Linked DNA regions of Homo sapiens: region 2 is linked to region 1. The links come from fine-mapping of genetic effects on gene expression. A gene starts in region 1. The other region holds a variant in brackets. All regions are shown on one strand. Distances are from middle to middle. Region 1 holds the start of TLE4 (TLE family member 4, transcriptional corepressor). Region 2 overlaps TLE4 (TLE family member 4, transcriptional corepressor).

Evidence for each region.
Region 2: its variant is fine-mapped to the expression of TLE4 in whole blood (INTERVAL, PIP above 0.99).

Annotation. Positions count from the first base shown.
Region 1 is chr9:79,567,111-79,575,445 of GRCh38, forward strand. It overlaps TLE4 (TLE family member 4, transcriptional corepressor), which reads left to right and starts at 4,855. Exons shown (of 20, transcript NM_007005.6): 1 at 4,855-5,725; 2 at 6,579-6,676; 3 at 7,763-7,826. The coding sequence starts at 5,681. LNCARSR (lncRNA regulator of Akt signaling associated with HCC and RCC) reads right to left here and starts at 842. Exons shown (of 3, transcript NR_184113.1): 1 at 522-842. RefSeq lists silencers at 3,327-3,376, 5,287-5,406, 5,467-5,626, 5,737-6,206, 6,227-6,466 and enhancers at 4,737-4,866, 4,877-4,926, 4,967-5,056, 5,784-6,396.
Region 2 is chr9:79,694,639-79,702,973 of GRCh38, forward strand. The region is part of intron 8 of TLE4 (TLE family member 4, transcriptional corepressor); the gene reads left to right. Among named protein-coding and RNA genes, the nearest start is that of LINC01507, 130 kb to the right of the region's middle. The variant A/G (reference allele first, on the strand shown) is at 4,781.

The DNA of each region.
Region 1 (8,335 bases):
AGTTCAATGTGACCAGAACCCAGTGATGTAGCCATGACCTAATCTTATATTACTCTGTGTCTAGCATGTACCAGTCTTTAAAAAATGCTCACATTCACCAACACTTCCTCAAATGAGGCTTTTGAATCCACCTGAAATTTGCTTCTCAGTGATTTTTGCTTTGGCTGACTCTTTCTAGGCATTCAGGCTTCTGCTTAAATGTCACCTCCTCCAAGAAGGCTTCTATGAACTCCCATCTGAACTAGTTCTACTACTCCTGTCACTCCTTCATATTATGCAACTGTTTGTCTATCTCCCCCCATCAGAATGTAAGCTCCAGCAAGAAAGACACTTTGCTTATGTTGTTTACTGTATCAATCGGGATCCGATCAAGAGAGAAAAACAGTAATTTCAACAAGGAAAGTTCAATATAAAAAATTATTACCTATAACAGGGAATTGGATCAAAGGGAGATTGGTAAGAGGTAAAGAGAGCTCTAAATAATACAGAAATAGAGATATAAGGAACAGCTACTTACTAACCCTAGGGCTGAGATACAGCATCTCAAAAAGAGCTCCTCCAAGACACAGACACACTCTTAGGGCTGGCTGAGATCCAGACTTTGCTGGAGAGGGCACAGTTGTAACTTTCTGAATAGCAGGAGAGCCCTGCTAGAATTCTGCCTTCTGGAACTTGCTAGAAATCCACATTCCAGAACTCGTTGGAAATCCATTCTCTGGGGTTCCAAGGAAAGCTGCTGAGGGAGGTGACTCATTAGAGGCACTTGCTCCAAAGCCACCTAAGGGGCTTCTGGAGGAAGCTGCTGGCTGCTGGGTGCTGCTGCTTGCTACCTGTGCTGTAGGAACCTGCCCAGTATGCAACCAGAGCCAGGAACCAGGAAACCAAACCCTTTCCTCCTGCAATGTCTCTCCAGCGCCTTCTATTGACCTAGCTTTTTTAACAGCTGGAAAATATTTAAAGGGCTCAGATTCAGTTTCACTAGGCAGGCAATGAGGATGAATTTGGAGCTAAGAGGCAACATATTAATAATAGCCACTTTTATTGTGAAATCCCCATATTCTGGCACATAGTAGGTTTAATAAATATTTGGTGAAGTAATAAATAAATGATTTACATCTAACCAAAGTGAAAAGCATGCTTGGCATATGTCACTTCAAGATTGGAGCTTTCAGGCCTAGCTTTTAACATGAAAGTTGCTGCCAAGTGCCTCCCACATGAAAACTCTGGAACACCCCACCTACCCCCCACTCTGTGGTAGGGATAAGACAGGCCTCCAGATAACATCATAGCTTGGCTCAACAGTTAGCGAGAAGTGCAATGAGAGAAGCACAGCAGAGAAAAGGAGAAAAAGTGGCCATGAGCCCCACTTACAGTCTGTGTTACGGCTAGGGCTGGGCCGCCAGTTGCTGCATTTGCATCTTTCTGAGACATTGAGGTGAGTTACATAGCTCTGCCACGTGGCCAAAATGTGAAACACATCCAAGGGCTATATTTTAATACAGAACTTAAAAAATAAAGAAACATCTTGACTTCTCTAGCCACTTTCCTGTTGACACAAACCATCGAGAGAGATTAGGGGAAAGATCCTTGCTATAAGTGATCTGATATTTCCTAACAGAGCAAAGTTTCCTCTTTGTCCACTGACCCTTTCAATAGTTCTTCGGGTTCTATTCTTAGAATTCTCGTTTCCTGTCCTGAGAGAAAACTGCACAGAATTTCAATAAATATGACCCAAATGATGTGGAAACTTCCTATAAGGATGCAATGAGGTATTCATTCATTAATGCCATCAACAAATATTTACTGAGCACCAACTACCAGACAGTGATGGCAGACATAATTTGGGGAGTTTGGAGTGCAACTGTGAACACAACCAGGTCCCTGTTCTCATGGAACTTGCTAACATTCTGGCTAAAATAGAGAACATGGAACTTCCTACAGAGGCACTGTGGGTGATTTCACAAACCATTGAAAAGCTCTAGTGGGAGCAAGCAACTAACCAACCTTAGAATAAAACATGGTTGTTGCTGGTGTTCTTAGAAACTTCGCTGTCCTCGTGTGCAAATTGTATCACTAAAGTCTTCTCACTTTTGATTCTTGGGAAGGTTTCAGGGCAGGGCTGTCTAATGGAAATATGTAAGCCTCATAATTTAAAATCTTCTAGGAACAAAGTTAAAAAAGTAAAAAGAGGCTGGGCACGGTGGCTCACGCCTGTAATCCAAGCACTTTGGGAGGCCGAGGCGGACGGATCACCTGAGGTCAGGAGTTCAAGACCAGCCTGACCAACATGGAGAAACCCCGTCTCTACTAAAAATACAAAAAATTAGCTGGGTGTGGTGGCGCATGCCTGTAATCCTAGCTACTCGGGAGGCTGAGGAAGGAGAATCGCTTGAACCCAGGAGGCGGAGGTTGCGGTGAGCCGAGATCGTGCCATTGCACTCCAGCCTGGGCAACAAGAGCGAAACTCTGTCTCAAAAAAAAAAAAAAAAAAAAAAAAAAGTGTGTGCCTGCAGTCCCAACAACACTGGAGGCTCAGGCAGGAGGATAGCTTGAGCTTCAGAGTTTGAGGCCAGCCTAGGCAACACAGGAAGACCCCCATCAATACAATAAATAAATAGAAACAGACAAAATTAATTTTACTAATATTTTTAATTGAGTTATTCAAAATATCACAATTTTGACATAATTATAAATTATTGAGCTGCAGTTTTTTCACATTAATTTTTTCAAAATGCCACATATATGTGTACTTACAGCACATCTCATTTTGAATTGGACACATTTCAAGTGCTTAACAGTCACATGTGGCTAGGTATGGAACAGCAGAGGTTCAGAAAACTGTCAAAAGGACTTCTCTGTCCTCTTATTTTGGGGATGGAGGCGAAAATATTTGCCGAATTGAAACATTCTGTGAACTTTGGCTCTGGGTTTTTAGTATGAAATTAGAGGCAGGTGAAGACCACCATAGCCTTCCTTTGCACCAGCTCACTACAGTGGCCAGAACGGAAGGAGGTTCACAGAACGTGCTAGGTTGGACATTAAGTCACCGAGTCATCCACTGAGGAAAGGGATATCATTAAGAAGAATAGTTTTCCACTAACGCCGAACCGGCGGCACCATCTCAACCAACAGGTCAAGTTACAGTAGGCAAGCACGCATAGAAATAAACGTCTAAAACCCAGCCTGTTACATTAGCCAACACTCTTCTTGACTTTTTCCGAATTTTTTCCCTGTCCCCAAGATTAGCCGCTCGCTAGAAAAGACTGCGAGCCTCAGCAGCCTCCCCTTGAACTGGGGCGCTGCCTCCAGCTGGACACGGACTAAGGATGGAAAGGCGCACTGACGGAGGCCGCCCCCATTTCCCAGGCCCCTCCCTAGGGGTGCCCCTCCTCAGCCATGGCTGCCCCTTTCTCTCCTCCTCCAGCATCTGCCCCTGGGGCCACCCCCACCTTTCCGCCATCTCTCGGGCCCGCGTGGCACCCTGCTCTGTTTTTAACGGGGATAAACTTGACTTGCTTCTCCAAAGAGCGGGAAAAAGAGGCGCAGTCTTGGTACTGATCTGGGGGAGGGAACGTCCCAGGGCGCGCAGGGGCGTTTTCTACCCGTGCCCCGTCGGCCTGCTCTGTTCAGTACCGACCGTGTTCGGGGTTCACGTGGCCCAGTCGGCAAAGTTTCTTTGGAGGTCCAGCGTCTCTGATTCCCGGATCTTCAGCCCCACCCGGAGCCCCCACGGTTACTGCCCCCCGCGACCCCCGATGGAGCGTCGGGATGCGCTTTCTCTCCGAGTGCCTCCGGGGGTGGAGGGAGGGAGGCCTGTTTCGGAACTAAATGGCAATCACAGCCCCCGCGGGGCTTGGAGGGACGAGCTCCCCGCCCACCCCGCGGCCCCGGCCCCAGCCAGCATCTCGCGACTCCATTTCTGGCTCTAAACAAGAACGGGGACCGAGTCGCGTTCACACGGAAAATTATGCCGGCTCCAGCGGCGCGTAAAATTGATGTGAACCGAACGAAGTAAGATCAGCGTGATCCTCCCCCTCTTGTCTCAACAGGGGTTTCGGCGCGTTACACAAGGCCGAGCTTGTCTCTTTAAGGAGACATTGGACCCTAATTAGTCCGCATTCCTGGCGCGGCTGCGGAGCGAGGGGCCGAAGGTGTCTGGGTTGGGAGACGGGTGGGCGGGAGGACGAGACTCGGAAGAAGATCTTTTGACCAGCCCCCAGGCTCACCGCTCCCTCCACCCTCTTTATTTTGCCGCCACCACCACCACCACCACCAACACCTAATTCTGAAGATGCAGCCAGGGCAGCAGCAACAGCAGCAGCCGCCGATTCTCCCAGCCCCACGTTACTTTGATTGACAGCTGAACAAATGTTTTCCCGGTTCGAACGCTCGCGCTAAGGAACGTCAGCCAAGGCGAAGCTCCGCCTTGGGCGGGCCATCTCCGCCCCGCCTCCGCCAACCTCATTCCTCTTCGTTAATTGGTCGGAGCTACAGGCGACGCCCGGCCCCCACGTGGGTTTCAGCTGGGTTGGCTCCTCCCCGCTGGCTTGCCATTTGTCAGCAGTGAAATGATGGGCACTAACACAGAACGGCGATTAATGTTCAGCCACCTCTGATTGGTTGGTGGAGACGCCTACCGCAACGGGGGTGGGCGGGGCGCTTGGAGAGCTCGCCAGAGCGCTCGCATGGCGGGCCGGTGATTGTAGTCAATCTGGCCGTATTCTCAGGCAGGGTCGCCCGGGGCGGACTACATCTCCCGGGATGCTGCGCGGCCGCCCCGCGGAAGATTGTGAATATGTATCAGAATGTTAATGATTAGCTGCTGCTAAATTTGGTCAAAGAAGTCACCTACACAGAGCGTGTTGTTAGAGCTGTGCTGAGCGGGTGTTTGGGTTGTTGGCTGCTTTCTTCCCCCTTTCTCACACACTTGTATATTATTTTGAGGTGGTGTTCGCAGAGTTTGAAAGGAGAGAGAATTAAAAAAAAAAGCCGCAAGCGTTTCACTCTTTTATTTTTATAATCCCCTTCAATTTGGGGTTAAAAAAAAGACAAGAAAACAGGAAGGAAGAGAAATAAGGAAATGAGATGTGGTAAAAGAAGCTAAAAGGTGCCTTTTAAAAGATCGTTGCTGTGAAGTGAAAAAAATCTCCAGAGAAACCAAAAAGCACCGCCGAGACCTCTTCCGAACCAAAGGAGTTTGTGTTTGCTTTTAGGGAAGAAGAAAGATCATTCATTCGGAGGAATAACAACCAATTAAAAGACAAATAAAAAAAGTTTGGAGTGGGACGCAGAGCGAGCGAGAGGAGCTGCCGGCGGGCGGTGGGGCGCGGAGCCCGCACTTTCCCGGCCGGGTGAGCGGCGGCCGCGGCGCCGGGCTCGGCGGGTGCGCCTCGGCGGAGCGAACGTCGGAGCGTTGCCTTGGGAGACGCGCGCCGGACAATGCCCGCGGCGGGCCAGTGACGCCCGCGGGGAATGCGGAGCGGCCCGGCAGCCGGCACCCAGCCGCCGCCGCGCGTTCCTGCCGCCCGTGTCACGCGAGACCCGGCGGGGGCCGGGACCGCCCGAGCCGCCCCTCAGACCGAGCCGGCCGCCTCCGCTGCCGCGGCCGCCTCCTCTTCGGGGTCATTAAAGCCAATGAGCCGCGCGCCTCTGCCGAGCGCAGCCAACTAAATCGGCTTGGATGATTCGCGACCTGAGCAAGATGTACCCGCAGACCAGACACCCAGTGAGTGCGGGCGGCGGGGCGCGGGCTCGCCGGGTGCTGGGGGATTCCCCGCGTCGCCCCCTGCGCACCGAGTTGTGTCTTTTGGCCGGAGGGGCGTGGAGAGCCGCCCGAAATCGGCGCCCCGCGCCGGGAGCAGCCCGCCCGCCATCACCCCCACCCCCCGGCGCGGTGGCCCTCGGAGGGGGTGCGGAGAGGCAATTGAGTTGTAGCCATTTTCTTATTGTTGTCTTTGAAGCCCCTGGAAGCCGCGCCGAGCCGTTTGCGGTCCCCGCGCCGCGACTCCTCGAGGGGGGGTGGCGAGCGATGAAGGAGGCGCGACTCCGCGCCCGGGCGGGGAGGGCGCCCTCGGCAGCGGCGCTGCTGGGCTGGCTGCGGTTTGGAAGTGCGGGGCGCCGGCCCCTCGCGCCGCGGGCCGCCGGGGCGAGCGGGCGAACGAACGAGCCGAGAGGGTGGCGGCCGCCTCCCTCCTCCCCCGGCCTGACCGCAGCCCGACGCCATGGCGCGGGTCCCCCCGACGGGCCAGTTTCGATTCCGGGTGAGGAGGGAGTGGGCGCGGCGCGCGGGTCCCTGGGTGCCTGTCTTTGGCCGGGGAGGGGAGACGGGACTCGAACCCTCGGGGTCCGGGGCGCGGGGGCCTGCGGGCGGGAGTATGCGGGGCCCCAGGACCACCTCGAAACCAGCCTCTGCCTGGGCTGTTGGGCGCGAGGAGGGTTGCGGGAGGAGAGTTTTAATCTCTCTTTGCTTGCGTGCGCGATGACCCTCACCCCCCGCTAACGCCGCATAGTAGGTTTTCTCCGTCTCCCTGCTTCGCCTGTGATGTGGGCTAATTAAATATTTTATTGTTGTTCTTCAGGCACCGCATCAGCCTGCTCAACCCTTTAAATTTACAATTTCCGAATCCTGTGATCGGATTAAGGAAGAGTTTCAGTTTTTACAGGCTCAATACCACAGGTAACGATATTGACTTTAGCTGATCCTTCTGTTTGCTTAGCTCTTGTCTCCCCGACAAATACACACAAACACTTACCCTCCTCCTTTTTTGTGGGGGCGTCACAAAGGTATTATTTTTTTTTCTCGGTGGGCAGAAAGGGCAAATCAAGGCCTCCTTCCTTAGGCAGGTGTAAATAAATTAAACATTTCTTCTACCGTAAATAAAAAGAAGGCAGAACAATCGAAACTGGGGAGACTTGGAAAACGCTGAGGCCAAACTTTCGATATTGATTTATTGGGGCCGGGAGAATGAAAGGTTGGGAAGATTCTGGGGCCTTTTGACATCCTTGGTTCTTTATTACTCCGGACTTGATTCCTTCTCACTTTTTTCTGCCATTCCACTGAAGAGCTGAGAGCCCAGGGAAGTCGGAGTGAGCGATTTCATTACTTTTATGCTAAAAAAAAAAAAAATGTTTTCATCTTATAGACGATTTTTAGACTTAGGGTGCCTTTGAGACATTTTTCTTTAGCTGGCTTTTTAATGATGCCTAATTCTTATTTCATAAATGCAAGAACCAAAACAAACCACTGAACCCGATTGACACTTTGCCCCTGGGTGGTGGTATTCAACTTGTCTGTGTGTTTTGGAGGGAAAAAAACAAGATATCATTCATAAGACATGCTTGATTCATATTTTCATTAATCTCTTTGTAGAACATTAAAGAAATTCCCTTGTGACGTTTTGGAGGACTTATTTGTGCTTGTATGTGCAGTCATTATTGAAGTTTATTTTCGTGTTTGTTTTATTAAGTGAATATTCAATTCTGGAGGAAGTTCCTGAATTAAACTGATTAGAGGATTTGTTTCCTTAAAACTTAATTAAAAAAAAAATCCTAAAAACAAAAAACCACATATATGATCCTTATTGAAGGGGCAAGTCCAGACTGGTTCCAATCACCCCTTTCCCCTTCCCTTTCCATAATGATGGGGGTATTTATTTAAGATTGTTGATTTAGTTGTTTGTAGGTGAGATTTAGAATATGCGTTTAAGAGTTGAAGGATGTAAGTTAAGATCATTGTACTTAGAGTATCTTATGTCTTGAACAGTCTGAAGCTGGAATGTGAGAAACTCGCCAGTGAGAAGACAGAGATGCAGCGGCATTATGTCATGGTAAGAAAACCATGTCACAGATTCAAAGTGCCTATTAGTTTGGAATACCAAAAACAAGAATATGTTTAAATTGCTGGGGGCTGCAAGATAGATCACAGTCACCCTGCCAGTGCAGTTGAAGTTGTGGGAATATGTCTATTAGCAACCTGTAATTCTAGGCTGTTATAACTTGCCTTTGACAACTGGCTTTGATTGGAATTTTCAGAAAGTTCAGCCACATGGGGTATAATTTTCTGTGCTTTGTTTTTACAGATCGAAAAAAAATAAAAACAAAACCTTGTTTGTTTTGTCACAAGCAAAAATGTTTTTGTGTTAGTGGCTTTCTTTGTTGTTTTATTGCTCTTGCTCCAAACAATTTTTGCCAGTTTTTCTGTATGCTGTTAACATTGTAAATGTCTTATTATTAAAGACATTATTAAAAAATAATGTTTTATTTCTTTGAAAAGGAGTGATGGATAAGGAAAGACAGCAGACCATTTTTCAAATTTTTTTCTCTTTATGTTACTATT
Region 2 (8,335 bases), 130 kb after region 1:
ACGTAAAGCACCAGGTAGTCATCTATGACTTAAATATCAACCAATGTAAACATCTTCCTTAAAAAACAAGTATTATATCTGTCTGCCTTATATTTGGCTTTTTCTTTCATCATCTGTGTGTGGTGACTTACTAACCAGAAAAAAAAAAAAGCAGGGGGGAGGACTAAGGATGTTTTTCCTTTTACCACATACCTCCTTGGGGGATAAACATTTCAAGGAGCTCCCCAGGGTCACTATTCTCTAAATGAGCAGCACAGAAAAACTGCTGATGCGTGCATTCTTCCCTGGGTCTGTCAGGCAGGATTCCTTTAAATCCTGTCTTTTCAGTGGTCAGACTTAAGTAAGATTTGTTTCCCTGTGGTCACAGACAGCTGAGGAGTGTGTGATGAGAGACAAGGAAAGGGATAACCTGTTGAAAACTTTCCCTCTTATAGGAAAGATTAATTTCTATTACAATTTTTAAAAAGGTGGCCTTCATACATTTATCCAACAATGAATATTCATTGCATGCCCACCCAGTGGCCAGGACTGGGCACTGACCTTGGGGGAGGGGCCTGCATCCTTGATTGGTGAGGAGAGCAGCAGTGAAAAGGCACCAGCTTTAACTGTCTTTTCAACATAGTTCTGAAAATTATCTTGTCACCCTATTACTTTCAAAATTACTATTTTTGAAGGCTGCCTCCCTCCTTTGGTGTGCCTACAAATGCATATCTCACACACACACACACACACACACACCACTGTTCTTGTATTACAGGCATTATATTAAGCACTGAGGATGCAAAGAAATAAGACACAATAGTGCATGACCTTTAGGAATGCATAATCTCCTATCTTAATATAATGAACATAATATGGTAACATGAAGCATACATGAGCAGAACCAAGTTTTGTGCCCATTCATTTGTTCAGCAGCTGTCAATTAAAACACCGAAGTACTGGATTTTCGTGGTGATCCAAACGGGCGTGGTCCTTGCCTTCATGGAGCTTCTAGTCAAGTAGATGAGATAAATAATCAAAAGAGTAGCCACAGCCACAGTGCTGGGAAGGAAGCACACAAGGGAGTGTGTTAGAGATCGGCTGGAGGGAGCTCCTTGGATAGCATTACAGATAAGACCTTTCTGAAGATGTGACATTTAAGCTGAAACATAAAAGATGAAAAGATGCTAGCCACTCAGGCTGGGAAAGAGAGTTCTTGGCAGAAGTCTGCACAGAGGCTCTGAAGGATGAAAACGTTTGGGTTGTCTGATGCTCTGAGAAGGAAATTTTCAGATCAGATTGGAGAAGGTGGGCAGGAGCTAGATGACACCTGCTACTTATATCAAGTGTGAGATGTTTGTCTTATTGGGTGTTGATTTCTGTTGTGACTCTGAGAACTTTTAGACCTGTGTTGTCTGACATGGTAACCACAAGCCACATGTGGCTTTTCAGCAGCAGCAATGTGGCCAGTCCAAATTGAGGTGTACTGTTGTCAGTATAAAATGCACATCAGATTTTGAACAGTTAGTACTAAAAAAAATGTAAAATGTCACATAATTTTCATATTAATATGTGTATTGACATGGTATTTTTTGAAGTATTGGATTAAATAGATGACCACAGTTAATTTTACTGTTATACATTTAAAAAAATCTGACTATCCGAAAAGTGTAAAATACATAGGTGGTTCACATTATATTTCTGTCTGTCAGCGCCATTCTAAAGAATAACTTTAATATTTTAATGAAGGCCCTTAAGACCAATCAGTTAAGCGATAATTGAAAACTGTTTAGCCCTTTTGTGGTGATATGAAGAAGACCAGAGTTCCTGATTAGCGACCTTAAAACTTATTAGGCAGCCTTCCTTTAAATTGATATATTGTCATTTCTTTCTTTGTTCCTGTTGTATTACCCTCAGACATTGTATAGAGTATATTTGCATACAGAATACATAAGAATATATATGAGAATCTGTGGAGTTAACACTCTTTGGAAAAAAAAGTTTAGCCTTTCAAATAGATTAAAGCAGTTTACTGGAAAAAAAAAATAGCAACATGAAAAGACTTTCTTTTCTAATAAATGTTAATAGTTACTAAAATGAAGATTCTGGTCCATTAAGATACAGCTTGCCAAGTCCTAAAGCTTAGTAACTTATTTCTCTGAGCTGTTACCCTACTTCAGCTTTGTCAAAGCAGCTGTTATGCTTGTGTTGATATTTTCATTCAAAAACAGAGCACAGTGCAGGGATAGGTATAAAGCCAGTGCACCTTCCGTGAACATCCAGGAAAGAGATTTTTGCCAACCCTCTCCACTTTTGTTTTTAGGGCAGTCAAACTCATGTACCACATGAGATTTGCCAGTGAGACTTAGTAACATTGGTTATAAAGCAGTAGGTGAATGAGTGGTTTATGATATGTTTTACAGGTCATATACTGAAAAAAATAATTCCAGAAGAAAGTGGCCAGTGCATGTAACTGTAATTTACAGAGTTAGCATACAAGATTTATAGAATTTGTATTAAGGAGAGCGAGAATTCTTGCTGGAGAACAAATGGACACAGAAATGTTAGACTTTGCAAACTTTGAGGAGGTCCATTGGATTGAAAAGTGCGAAATGACTTTGGGGTGATAGGTAGTTTAAACGATGAACACAATACAAAGTTGTATGCAGTTGGCAATTTTTATTACAATTTCTGTTAGACTGTTAATACCATGCCATCTCTAATGATCAGGAGAGGGATTACTTGATTAATTCAGCTTGTACTTTGGATTCTTCTCTCCATCAGTGGTGAGGGGTTGTACTTGTTCCAACTCATTCATCTACTTTCTTCCTTGTGTGGCCCAACACTTGCACCACATGCAGACTAGCTTTCAAGAGAGGGCAACTAAGCTCCCTACATAAGAATCAACCCTGTGTCTTTGGCATCAAAGCATCATGTCCCAGCAGCTCAGTTTGTCAGCTAAAGTAACTGTGTTCAATGAAATTTCTGGGGTGGAGCCAATAGCTTTATTCCAGGAAGAGGAAGCAACAGTGAAGAAACCCCCGAGAGGACATTAAGATAATGTTCTAATTTAAAATCAATTTTATTGATATCTTATAAATTATTAGAGCGTTTTATACTGACCAAGCAATACATAATGCTGAGGCCATGAAAACAGAACATGAATGAATTAATATTGAAGTGCTGTATTTTCTACTACACATGAAGAAAAAAATATGTAATACTTTTGTATCCTAAGTATTTTGACTCAAGGAGCCCTACTGAAAAACAAGGTGTATATTTCATTCTTCAAGGTGTGTATTAATATTTTATTCAAGACATTTCATGTGTTTCTGTACTTAGTGGGTTAAATACTTGTTGAATGAGTCCATAAGCAGACAAAAAATATGCGGTTGTTTCCACATTTGCCAAAAGGGAATAGCTGTCTATGGGGGCTTACTAGTACTAGATGCTAGGTTGAATTCTTCTTTATCCTTATGGCAACTTACAAGGAAGTGCTGCTAACACCCTCGTCTTACCTACTGGAGAAATGGAAGCTTAAAGAGGTTCATGAATTTTCCCAAGGTCACATAGCAAGTGTTACAGCCTGGTCTTGAACCCAAGGCTGTCTGACTTTTATACCTGTAGCATAACCATTGTAGACACTGCCTCTCTTCTGTTATTCTTCTGACTGTTGGTTCCTCTGGTTTGATAATATTTTGATTACCTGCAAAAGAAATTTACCTTGATCCAGGTTTCTCTTACCAGTAGAGAAGCAGAGACAAAAACAATAGAACATTTTAAAGAATATATTGTTCATGAAATGTTACAGAAGGTGAAACATTTGTTAAGAATAGATTCATTACTTTATATGGAGATTATATTAAATCTTCTTTTAACAAGGGCAGGGCTTTAGAAAGTCCCAGTCATTTTTGAAGGTGAGTTTTGATTTATGTTAATTTGAAAAAAGCAAGTTCTGTGAGAGTTTTATACAGATTGTGCTTTTAATGACTTCCTTAATCAAGCAGGTTATAAAAAAGAAAAACCTCTTACTGTGATGAGCAGTAAACTGACACCAGTGACTGGCTCAGTCAGAGCTCTACTATATTCAAGTTTTTTACCACCAGCATGCTATAAATTTTAAGTTCATTTACATAAATTTACATGTGTTATGTGTTAGTATGTGAGACTTGTGCATTTTGACCAAGTAATTTTCATTTTAAAGGTTTTATATTTACTTTTTTCCAATTGAGGATTATTTCTTATATATATATACATATATATATATATATGTATATCCTGGTGGTTTCCCTGTAAATGAGATAATAATATGTTAAAATGTTTTATCAGTTATAAAGAGCTCAATGAATGGGAAAATAAACATTTTGTGTAATTCTGTACAATAAAATCCAAGCAGAACTAGCTGGGTTATGGTACAACAGTAGTTTGATGTACGTAGGTTTATTCAGGATATTACTTTCCAAACTTACTCAAAGTAGTTCCAAAAAAACAGAAATACAGTGCTTTGTGGTCTGGTGAACATGATCAACTCTTTGGATGATTCATGACTATAGAGTCACCAGTGTTCATTTTTATTTTTGACATGGGTCTTTTGCTTTTCTAAGGGGTTGCAGAGGAAAATATGATTGAGGACTTTGGTTATGGCATCAGTAAAGGATCTACAGGGGCCTTCTTCAGCTTTCTGTCTTCTGTGCCTCCACCCCTGTCCCCATCACCAAAAACAAACTCAACTTGAATCGTCCCTGACTCTGATTAATGTTTGAGAATTCCTATAGTGACTGAACTATAGTTAAGAGTAACT[A/G]TAATTTATCGTCTAAACTTGGCCATTTTTGAGAGTGAAGGGAAGTCTGGACAACAGGTGTAGAAAGGGCAAACCAGGACTTGCAATTACCCTTGACATATTTTAGTGGTACCTTCTGACTCCTCATTATCCCATTTATCTGTTTGAAAACTGATTTACCCTTTTGTACCGTGTGGATACGATTTTTGAAGGCCATAGCTGATGAGCAAACAAGCCATAACGAATGAGTTTTAGGCTGCTTGATCATGGTTTCCATGCGACCTTTAGCATGTTCTTTCTGGTTGTTATCGTCTATGGGCAGGGAAGTCTAAGCACTGCACCTGTGTGAATGGAAAGCAAAATTGGCATGGTGTGCATTTGAAATCAAATTAGAAAGTCCATTGTGGAGATGGTATTTGCAGTCTTGCCTCTGTGCAGTATTGAACCAAAACCTTATCGTGATTGTTGAAAGGAGAAAAGTTTTGGTGAATAGTAGCATATTAAAACCCTATAATTATGGGGCATCAGAATATCTATGCTGGGGGAAGTCCTACACAAATGTCTAGAAAAGACCTAACATAAGGTTTAAAATAGAAGATCCACACTAGGTCACCATCCCAATCTCTAAAGTAAGTAGAATCAACTGGAGTCCAGTATACAGTGATAGGACTAAGTTGCACTGTTGAGGGGCTAGGCTATGTGCCTGGGACTGCGCGTTGTACTTTATGTGGATTATTTTTCTTGGTCTTCAAAGCAGCCCGTGGGGCTGAGAATGGTGTGTTGTTACCCCAGACTAAAGAGAGGCTGAGACTAAGCAACATCCCTTACGGCTATTAAGTGAAGACTCTAGACTCACACCAGGCAGTCTGACTCCAGAGAGATGCTCTTGCCTGCTATTAAAATCTGTGCTCCCTGTTATTAAAATTAGCTAATTATAACAACAGCATCTTCTTTTGGAGGGGGAAGTTACTTTATAGAAGTCTTTCTCATACATTGTCATCTTTGATCTTGAGGTGGCAGAGGAGTAAAGGTGGAGGGGTGGGGCCTTCCCTTTCAAGTTGCTGGAGGTGTCAGTTTTCCATCTGACTTGGTCAACAGCCCTAGTAAAGTCTGGGATGGTCTTTAATCTAGGAACTAGAATCTTCTCATAGTGAAATTAGAACCTGATTATAGCTTTTTAAAGCTTACCTTTTGCTACCAAAGCAATTGGGGTTTCCATGTAATAAGTCTTTTAATCCTTTAGTATTTTTTTCTTGGTTTCTCCTTGTTTTCCTGCTCTTTTTCTTAAACAGATCTACCCTGTTCTTTTTAAATATCCCAGCATAAGTGTTTACTTTTAAAATCCAGAGCTTTACTAAACATTCACATTCAGGGTATTTTGCTTTCTCTGGATCAGCCATTGCTTGTGACCGTGACTCTCCAATCATAACAGATTTGCTGAGATACACACACACATACACACACACACGCACACTCAAACTGTAGTGAGAAAGACTTGTGTTTAATCCTTCTAAATTTGTAGATTTATAGGGTCACAATGCAGCTTCAGTAAGTTTCTTATGTAGTAAACTTGAGAAATATCTAAATTGAGCTTTTAAAATAATAATAGAGAAATAAAAAATAATAAAATAAAAAGCTTTTCTAGTAAAAGCATGACTTTATCGGTATTTATTTAATTCCTCTTATTCACATGCCTAGCAAAGATCCAAGTGGCATTCCTGTGGCAGAATGGTGGACTTACAAGATTCATGATGAGAGTCTGTGCCAAGTCCAATTTGATTCCAGAGTAATTATGTTATTAGAACATTGCTGATTGCCCCAGTGCCCACTGTGCAGCTTAACCTTTAAATGCTAGTGATAATTAACTACTTTATCATTCTACCAAGAAACTCCAACATGTAACTCTGTTCTACAGTCAACTTCAAAAATACAACGCTGCCTGCAAAACCGGAAACAGCTAGCTTAAGAAAAATATAAAGTATTTGGTTGTACATATGAGCCAATAAATGAACATAAAATCTAAATCTAAATAGGCATTACCTTTTAGTATTTTTAAGAAATTGTTTTGTTTAGAAATTTTTCCTCTTAAACAATGTGGAAATAACTTTCAATAGAATATAGCAGAATCAGAGAATTGTTAATAAAAGATATATATACTCCATTTTTCTTCTTTTTGTAAAATATGAAATTAGCCAGATTTAGTGCATCTAAAGGTAAGTAAAGGAGCAAAGGTGAGGAAGGGGCTGAATTGCCATATTACCGATTCCAAGGGCACCACAACACAAATCTTACTCTAGTGAATGGTCTCCCATGGAATTGTTCATCCTAGTGATGCTCAGAAAAGGAATGTATCATAAGAGATTTGGAGTGAGATTGAGGCGTGCAGAGGGGATGTTCAGCCATTTGTGTTGAGAAATATTTCTGGGCAGTTCCCTTCTGCTCATGATGCTAGGTGCCCCACCCTCAGGGAACCCACAGCCTAAAGTGGGAAGTGGCCTTGTAAACACAGCAATAAATTTGTTGTGAGTGCTTTACTCATTGGAGGAACAAAATGTTAAGGGAACAAAGAGGAATGAATGATTAATTCTGCCTGACAGCATCTGAGGAAGCTTTGAAAGGTGACATTAGAGCTGATTCTTAAGGATAGTGGGGGATTTCAAAAGATAGATCTTGAGAAAATAGTCATTGCCATAAGCCAGGAAAAAAGGCTACAGGTGCAACGAAAATACACAGAGCCCAGGGGAACACTGGCTTATAGTGCTGATGTAGGATACAAGGCCAGGACTCTGGATTGGGGTGTGGAGTGAGGACTTTGGAAAACAGCCATACTCAGAAATTTGGAATTTTTTTCCCCCTGTGAACAGTAGGAAACTGTCCTTTTAAAAGAGGAGTTAAAACAGGCTGAACCTCTCTTTGGGAAGTATGAATTCCAGAAGTGAGGTGGATAGACTGGAGAGGGGAAAACTAGAAACGGGATTGAGGCATGAAGTATGGTAGATAGTAACCCACAGATGATGATTGCATGCATGGTTTCAGTGGTCATGAAAACCTACTGAGTGCATTGGGTTGTGTGAAAGCAAAGCAGAAGTGTTGACCCAAGTCTCATGGCTTGGGAGTGAGGTTTGGAACTCAGCAGAGATACACAAAAGTCAAGAAGTAGTCCACTTTAAAAAATCGTTTGGCTCGTAATGTTTTGTGTCAATCTTCAGCCTTACTGAATAATGCCTGCAGTCTTTTCTGCCACTAAGTTTAAGGCTGAACGTTTGATAGGTCTAGGGCTAGAGTATTCATATAAAACCTCAAGAGGGGCTGGCACAGCAGGGACGGATTTAGAGGTCCCCAGCCCGCCCAGTGGGCACCCACTCACTGGTCCCATCTCTCTCCCCCACCAAACTCCCACCTGCACATCTTTGGAGCTTGTAATAAAGAGTTGCCATCACCACAGGTATGAAGAAAGACCATCAATCTTCTTAACAATGTGCTTTGGAAGTTCAGAAATGCCACAAAAGAGATTGTGACATTAAGGCTCAGTGGAAATAAAATGGAACATAGACCCAAAAGTTCTGGGTAACACAC